Linked DNA regions of Homo sapiens: region 1 is reported to be linked to region 2. The links are microRNA targets in miRTarBase. Many come from high-throughput screens and were not tested one by one. Region 2 holds a microRNA gene; the other region holds the end of a gene's coding sequence.

Region 1 (4,537 bases), not on the chromosome of region 2:
AAGTGCATCTCCAGCAGCCTCATGCAGGCCTATCAGGCCTGCAAAGCCATCATCATTAAACTGCTGTCCCGGCCCAAGGCTATTAGCCCCTATCACCTGCGGAGCATGATGCTCTGGGCCTGCGACAGACTTCCTGCCAACTACTTGGCTCAAGAAGACTATGCAGCCCACTTTTTGCTGGGCCTCATCGATGACCTGCAACACTGTCTGGTCAACAAGATGTGCCCCAATTATTTCATCCCTCAGTGCAACATGCTGGAACATCTGTCTGAGGAGACAGTCATGCTTCACGCCCGGAAGCTGTCCTCTGTGCGCTCAGACCCGGCAGAGCACTTGCGCACCGCCATTGAGCATGTCAAGGCAGCCAACCGGCTGACACTGGAGCTCCAGAGGCGAGGTAGCACCACCAGCATCCCCTCTCCACAGTCTGACGGAGGGGACCCCAACCAGCCTGATGACCGTTTGGCAAAAAAACTGCAGCAGCTAGTGACTGAGAACCCGGGAAAGTCAATCTCTGTCTTTATCAATCCTGACGATGTCACAAGGCCCCATTTCAGAATTGATGACAAATTTTTCTGAGTGTTAGCTGACTTTTTTTTTTCCTGATTCTTAAACTCTGATAATGTGTCGTGTGGTTTGTGATGCTATCTTTCTGTTTTTTACATATCCAGCCTAGATTGGATTTGTTAAGAACAAATTTTAAGTTTCCTGGTTCTGCAGGATGGTGCAGGCTCTGAAACAGTATATTACTATTTCATATTCTGCCTCTGATTTCGTTGTTTACTTTTTGTAGTTATTGTCATGCTCTTTAGTTTGTTGGAGTTTTTTTTCTTTTTAAGGAGATCTTAAGCCATAGATGAAAATGCCCATGAATCCTCTTGCTTTTTTCTGTTTCATACTTGGTGCAAATTTGTTCATGGGTATGGGGAAACAAATCTCTTTCTGATGCTTAACGATTCTATCCTATTATTTTTATTATTTTGTTTTTGTCTTTTTTCTTATGAGCTTTCACCACTACTGATATTTGAGAATCATATGAACCTGGGAACTACTTGGCATGTTAGCTGGATTTATTTATTTTGGCCAGTGACCAGAGTAGTTTCCCCCCTTTTCCACCAAACAATGTAAACTTTGAAAGTGATAATACTACAAATTGTGTTTTGGAGCAACTTCATTGAATGTAATTGTCCTCAAATCAGAGAACACTGGGTGGTTTGAAGGGTGTCTTTGACAGTTTTCCAAGCAGAATTAAGGTTTCCAAATGTTAATTTTAGCATATGTAATTATTTGAAGCCTTATTTAAATCCTATTAAAGAACATACCATTATAATTATTATTTGCACTAATCTTTGCCATTGTCAGAATTGCAAAGTGTGTTTCAATATAAATTAACAACCACTCTCGAAATTCTATCATTTTTTCATTTTGCCCATTTCTATCAGTGAAATGATTCTTTGCATTTGCTTAGTTCTCCTTCAGTTGTGGGGTCCTGCTTTGCCCTCTTTGATATTCCTGGTTCCTGTCTTACTGAGAGAAGTTGTTAAAGCTTTATACATGTTGACCCCATCTAAAGCTGGGGAAAATATACACTTGATGAAGTAGGTGTCTTTGTATTTATTTCTTTTGGGGTCATAGAGGTAAGCTTTTTTGTAAAATCTCTACTCTTCCTGAGAGTTTTGAGAAAAACTGGCAGGAAGAACTTATAATCCCCAAATAGAAGATACCACGTCTGTTCAAAAGCAGGTATTGCTATAGAGCAGCACCCAGGAAATATCTGTGGGTGGCAGCCTTGGTATAGAGGTGTCCTGTCTTCATGAGTGAAGTTACTTGCCTGATTAGGTGCTGGAAGGTATTGGCTCCCTGTTTTGGTGTGGACTCATGGCAAGCTGGTGTTTAAGAGGTCAGGAGGCCTGCTGATCTTTCAAAGGACACCCATGATGTCTACTCATAGAAAGGGCAAGTAACGTGTTCATTTTGGTCTTGAATGTCCAAACTCAAGGGTTGGATTTTGGCCAATTGAAATCAGACATATGCGATCTTGGGTTTTTGCATGGAAATTAATGTAATGCTTATAAATGAAAAATGAAAACATTTCAACCATCTAAGTCAAACACAAAAATAATAAAAAAAGAAACATACTGGCCTTGAAATTTTGTTGTTGTTTGTAATCTGGGAATTATTTTCTTATTAGTATTATATTAGTATATTTATATATTAGTATATTTTCTTATTAGTATTATACTAACAGCAATTTTCAATAAATACAGCCATGGGCTTGCTAGTGTCTTTCGGACCAGTTGTCCATATAGTGAACAACCAACATTCAGTCTTCCTCTTTCCCCAGTTTTACTACTAATGTCTATCCGCCACATCATCCTTGTCCTTCTCAGGAAATGATTTCATCCCTAGTGCTGAAAACGCGTCATAATTGGAAAAGCTGATCTGCACAAACCATCTCCCTGGCCACAACATTAACAAGCGACACAGAATGTAAGCCGCTCCAGTCAGGGACACGCTCAGCGTTCCAAACTGGAATGCTGGGACAGAAACATACACTCTCCCTGGATATGGAGGAGAAAGCATTTGGATTCTTTTGCTACTGACAACTATCACACGATCTTTATTTATTTGTGTATTTATTTTTAATACACTTTAAGTTCTGGGTTACATGTGCAGAACGTGCAGTTTTGTTACATAGGTATATACGTGCCCTGGGTGATGTGCTGCACTCATCAACCCGTCACTAATGCTATCCCTCCCCCAGCCCCCTACCCCCCGACAGGCCCCGATGCGTGATGCTCCCCTCCCTGTGTCCGTGTGTTCTCATTGTTCAACTCCCACTTAAGAGTGAGAACATGTGGCGTTTGGTTTTCTGATCTTGTATCACGCAATCTTGACTAGAGCTAGCTTTAGGATGAAGCTGACGTTGGATGGCGTTATGGGAGCTGGGAATTAAAACATGACCTACCACACCCGCCACATCTGAGATCTCCACTAGACTTTCTAGTTAAATGAGTCAACACTTGGGTTATTTTAGCCAGTTTGAATTTGGCTCATCAAAATATTTAAACTGGTATACCAAACTACTTCAGTATATTTAAACTATTGCCGTTGTTGTGTGCCTCTTTTCTTTCTCGGGACAGATATCAGGGTTACCGTGTATTTTATCTAAGAGCTGGTTTATGCTATCTGATTTGATTCAAAAAAAATAGCCTCTATAATAATTATGCTTCTACTAAAGCCTGTTAAAAATGTATGATACTTTGACCATTACATTACACTTTGTAGATTAAAATAGTTGTAAACCATCAAAGTAGCAAGCATATTACAACAGCTGTTTCTTTAAGCTATAAACGACCATAACTATTCTCTGAACTAGTGTCTCAAATACACTTAGCAATATTTGCAATATTTTACGTGCCATGTTTTCAGACAAAACTCCATTACAGGCATAAAAAGAAACTAGTTTCAAAGATCCTCTTGGCCCTGTTTTTGTTTTGTTTTTTGTTTTGTTTTGTTTTTGCCACTTCTAGTCCTAGTGAAGATCACTCTACAAATTCTTGGTTAAACGTCTCGAAAAAGGTCCAGAGGCCTCTGGGCTCTAGTAATTTTAAAATCCTTTAAAAAATTCCTGGAATTTCCTATTGGTACTATAACCTCGGACTTTTGGCTCAGATGCTGAGAGGGCTAGAAATGGGATGTAGTCCAATACCTTTTCTTATCTGAAATTTAAGCAAATCATTGAGTTACTAACCAGTCTGTCCTCCTGAAGTTCAGAAGATCGGTTAAAATCACTTCTGTTTCAAGCACAGAATACAATGCCTTAAGGCTGGAGTCATAATTTTAACATTATTCATGGCTGACTTTTTGATCGGGGGGTATTTACAAGCTATTACTCAACGGGCCTTCAGTTCTCTAATGAGGCTGGTTTCACCTATTTTGAGAGTAGGTTATTCTCTGTCCCCTGGCTTTCTCTTCTGAAATGGAAGATCCAAAGATGCCAGTAAAGGTTGGTTTAGAAGTGGGTGGAGCCAGGACCAGACATTTAAAAAATATTTCTGAAAGTACTATACAGAATTATTTCAGAGAAAATGAGAGGCAGGCATATGTAGCTAATCTTACTTCTGGGTGGAGAGGTGGGAAAAGTGGAAAGGACGTTAGGAGCTCCTAGTCACTTGTGTACCACAGGCACACGCACATACATGAGTGTGAGCACACACACATATTTTTATATCACCAACTGGAGGTTTCTTTGGGGTGACTTTTATAATGCACTTCCTTGGAGAATTAAGCCCCCTGGTCATAACTAATCGTTGGTGGTTTGGAATCAGATCACTGCCTCACCAAGAGGAATTTTCTGAGTTGGAGTTCAGCCTTTGCTGGTAATGCTGGGAAGGAACAGGAGGCGTGTTGAGCAGCGGTGTTGGTCTCCCAGGGTCTGGGGGCTTCCTGTGGCTTCAAAGCTCAGCAGTGGTCTTTAGAGAAGGTGCCTCAAGTTCCATCCCGGTAAGCTCTCTCCAGAACCTTTCTCTGAGTC
Region 2 (4,000 bases):
CTGGCTCCATGTCTGCTCACTCCAACTTCTGCCCCCACCTCCACCCCCTCAGCCCCACCCAAGCGATCCTCCATCAGCCTCCCCAGTAGCTGAGAACACAGGCAAGCATCACCAGGCCGGCTTTTTTTTCTGGCATTTTTAAGAGATATGGGGTCCCACCATGTTGCCCAGGCTGGTCTTGAGCTCCTGAGCTCAAGAGATTTACCTTCACCCCTGAATTGCTGAGATAAGAAGCATTGAGCCACCATCCCCAGTTGCTAAATTTCAAATAGCCAACCTTGTGCTTGTTTCTAATAGGATGGGATCCAGATGTCCTCTTTGAATGTCTGGGTATTGCTAATAATTTGTGTTCAAATCTTAATCTGCAGTTACATACACTAAAATGTGTCATTTTAGGTCGCCAAATATGCAATGCCATTTAGACCCTCATACAGTTTTTTTTTGTTTGTTTTGTTTGAGTCTCTTTCTCCCAGGCTGGAGTGATCTCAGCTCACTGCAACCTCTGCCTCCTGGGTTCAAGCGATTCTCCTACCTCACTCTCGAGTAGCTGGGATTACAGGCGTGCACCACTACACCCAGCTAATTCTTTGTATTTTTAGTAGAGATGGGGTTTCACTATGTTGGCCAGGCTGGTCTTGAACTCCCCCATCCACCCGCCTTGGCCTCCCAAAGTACTAGGATTACAGGCATGAGCCACCGAGCCTGAGGGCCTGAGGGGCAGGTTAAATTGTACCAAATTGAATTAATCCTGCTGATACACTAACATATTAACTTTTTCATTTTCTTTAGATGTTGATATATCACTACTTGTGTCTTTTAACAAAATGAAAAAATTGACTACTGATGGGAAGTTAATTGCCAGAGCATTGAGAAGTTCAGCTGTTGTAGAGGTAAGAATCAAGAATAACTACTGTTTATATTTATAGTTTATAATTATAAAGAATGTTAACGTAATGATTATTATATGATTATAGCTTACAATTATAAATAATATTAGTTTTATTAATGTAATATACTATTTTAAAGCTTGATTTGGAAGGCACCAGAATCCGGAGGAAAAAACCTCTGGGGGAAAGACCAAAGGATGAGGATGAACGCACAGTGTATGTGGTAAGCTTAAGAACCCGGGTCCCCAGTCAGAAACTGGCACAGAAACAATATAATTAAGTTAAAAATTTATTGACATTCTGATTGTGAAAAACTCTAATATTGCTTTTAATTTATAATAGGAGTTACTTCCCAAAAATGTTAATCACAGCTGGATTGAAAGAGTATTTGGGAAATGTGGCAATGTTGTTTATATAAGTATACCACATTATAAGTCTACTGGAGATCCAAAGGGATTTGCGTTTGTGGAATTTGAAACAAAAGAACAAGCAGCAAAAGCAATTGAGGTAAGTCCAGATCCTAAAAAAAAAAAAAGAAAGAAAAGAAAACAAGTATTAAAATAGTAACTTTTGCAATCATTTCAGTTTCTTAACAACCCACCAGAAGAAGCACCAAGAAAACCTGGCATATTTCCTAAAACAGTGAAAAATAAGCCCATTCCAGCCTTAAGAGTTGTGGGTGAGTATTTTTCAATATTTAAATAGGTGTAGTTGAAGTAAGATGAACTAATAATGATGGCACTTTTACAGAAGAGAAGAAAAAGAAAAAGAAGAAGAAAGGCCGAATGAAAAAGGAAGACAATATCCAAGCCAAAGAAGAAAACATGGACACAAGCAACACCAGCATCAGTAAAATGAAAAGATCCAGACCCACATCTGAGGGCTCTGACATTGAGTCCACTGAACCCCAAAAGCAGTGCTCAAAGAAAAAGAAAAAACGGGACAGAGTTGAAGCATCTAGCTTACCTGAAGTCAGAACAGGGAAGAGGAAGAGAAGCAGCTCTGAAGATGCAGAATCCCTAGCTCCCCGATCAAAAGTAAAGAAAATTATTCAGAAAGACATCATTAAGGAAGCATCAGAAGCTTCCAAGGAAAATAGAGGTAAAACTACAAGGTTTTAATTAGATAAAACTAATTAATTTTAATTAATTAGTTTTTAATTAATTAGGTTTTAATTGGCTTCTGTTTCACCCATTTCACAGCCCCATGTCTTAACGGAGAGCTTTTTTATTTATTTCAAGATATAGAAATCTCTACTGAAGAGGAAAAGGATACTGGAGATCTAAAAGATAGCTCTCTCTTGAAAACAAAAAGGAAACATAAGAAAAAACATAAAGAGAGACATAAAATGGGAGAAGAAGTTATACCATTAAGAGTGCTATCAAAGTAAGTCTGTGGTTTAAATTCTGTCATTGGCTTAACAATCCATCACCATTGCTAAAGTGCAATTCCAATTTATATTCAACAGAGTTGCATATTAGCAACAGTAATGGCCTGTAGCCAAGAACTGCACACAGTGTGGGCGTTAACGCAATTGCTGATTAGGTAGGAACCACCACACTCAAACATGGAAGCACTTATTTTTGTCATGTCACAGCAAGTGCCTCCATGTTAAAGTAGAGGGGGCCCCTTAACAGATGTAAAAATACAAAATAAAGCTTAAATATATGAGCTGCGGTCAATACAATAAAGTTATTTTCTAAAAAAATAATAAAAATGTAAAAGGAAGACTTACCATCACCAAAACATGGAAGCACTTACTTCTTTAGTTTCAAAGCAAGTACATCCACGTTTAAGTGGTGGGGAGCCCAGTCTTGGAAAAAGTTAGAATCCTTTAACCTGTAACAAGCTTAGTAACCTTAAAACACAATAACAAAAAAATTTTGTAACAAAAGGTGTGCTGGCTTGGAGACACCTCCACTGAAACATGGAAGCACTTACTTTTGTTTCACACAGCAGGTACCCCCATGTTAAAGCAAAGGGGATCCCTTCAAATGAGGTTAGCGTGTTCTATTTTGGAGAAGTAAATTGGATTCACTCCTACTAAAACATGGAAGCACTTACTTTTAAAGTCACAGAAAGCACTTCCATGTTAAAGTTGAAGGGAGCCCACCCAACATACAACTTCTTTGGACTTCAGAGTATTTAGAGCTGAGGAGAAAGAAAACAAAATGGCATAACTTTAGAAGAAAAAAATTTTTTTACCTTCCTGAACTAGTTCCCAAAGATTCGTGTTCTCCTCCAGAAGGGTAAAAGGCAGGGACTTCAGCCACTTCTATTTATACTATTCTTAACTCTTGAATTCCTTTTGCCTTTTTATCTCAGAGAATCATTACAAGGGCCTTTTGTTATTTTAATGTATCAGCTCTCAGGGAATGTATGATCCTGGGTGGGTCTGGATCCTTTTTTTTTTTTTTGAAGTATACAGATGTCAATGTTAACAGCTAAAACCATTACCACAAGATATCTTCCTCTTAAAAAAAAAAAAGAAAAAGAAAAAGAAAATCTCCTATCTGCTTGTTTGATGGCATAGATTAGGGTAACAATGAGTGCTCCCACTGAGCCGAGAAAGGCATTGTGTTTCTATCTGGAGGAACTCTGTTTGAAGAAGCATCTACATGTTAAATGTATGTAAATAAATAGATTGCTTCCACGGGGTGTTTTGTTCTACTTAGAAATTCTTTTTGATTCAAGTAAATACTAAGGAATGTTATCTCTCAAATTGGAAGCAGTTTAACAAATCTTTAATCTCGCCCTTTTCCCACAGAGATGACTGATTTAGTAAATGTTACTAGTTAAGGAATTAATGCTAAAATTTTACTTTTATAAATTAAAATACTTCAGACACTCAAAAATTTAATTGGCAATCTTAAAACATTTAATCTGAATATTGGGGGAAGAGGAACTCCCTTAGCTTATTTTGCTAAATGTCTTTAGAACCTAGGAAATATTTTGAATATGTGTTTAAAGAAACAGGAAAGTTGGTGGAGGAGTTGCTCCAAGTCATTGTGAATGTATATATTTAGATATTTCCCTATTTACTTTTTATATTTAGTCATCTGTTATCACCATTTCTTTCCTTGTAGGAGCGAATGGATGGATTTGAAAAAAGA

What was found. The annotated mature microRNA hsa-miR-302d-5p reads ACUUUAACAUGGAGGCACUUGC and lies in region 2 at 2,484-2,505, opposite strand. An mRNA with a match to its seed (bases 2 to 7 or 8) in the 3' UTR can be bound and repressed. Matches are read on the target gene's strand: a 7mer-m8 pairs with bases 2 to 8, a 7mer-A1 pairs with bases 2 to 7 and ends in A, and an 8mer does both.
Region 1: the mRNA of MB21D2 is a reported target of hsa-miR-302d-5p. Seed matches in the 3' UTR shown: 7mer-A1 at 1,310-1,316 and 7mer-m8 at 1,540-1,546.

The regions. Positions count from the first base shown.
Region 1 is chr3:192,794,428-192,798,964 of GRCh38, reverse strand. MB21D2 (Mab-21 domain containing 2) reads left to right here. Exons shown (of 2, transcript NM_178496.4): 2 at 1-2,150. The coding sequence ends at 579. Among named protein-coding and RNA genes, the nearest start is that of FGF12, 69 kb to the right of the region's middle.
Region 2 is chr4:112,645,562-112,649,561 of GRCh38, forward strand. MIR302D (microRNA 302d) reads right to left here and starts at 2,510; the gene lies at 2,443-2,510. LARP7 (La ribonucleoprotein 7, transcriptional regulator) reads left to right here. Exons shown (of 13, transcript NM_016648.4): 3 at 790-890; 4 at 1,027-1,110; 5 at 1,230-1,394; 6 at 1,473-1,566; 7 at 1,638-1,988; 8 at 2,129-2,273; 9 at 3,974-4,000. It overlaps MIR302CHG (miR-302/367 cluster host gene), which reads right to left. Exons shown (of 3, transcript NR_146092.1): 2 at 2,952-3,038; 3 at 1,159-1,407. MIR367 (microRNA 367) reads right to left here and starts at 2,380; the gene lies at 2,313-2,380. It also overlaps MIR302A, MIR302C and MIR302B. RefSeq lists an enhancer at 3,310-4,000.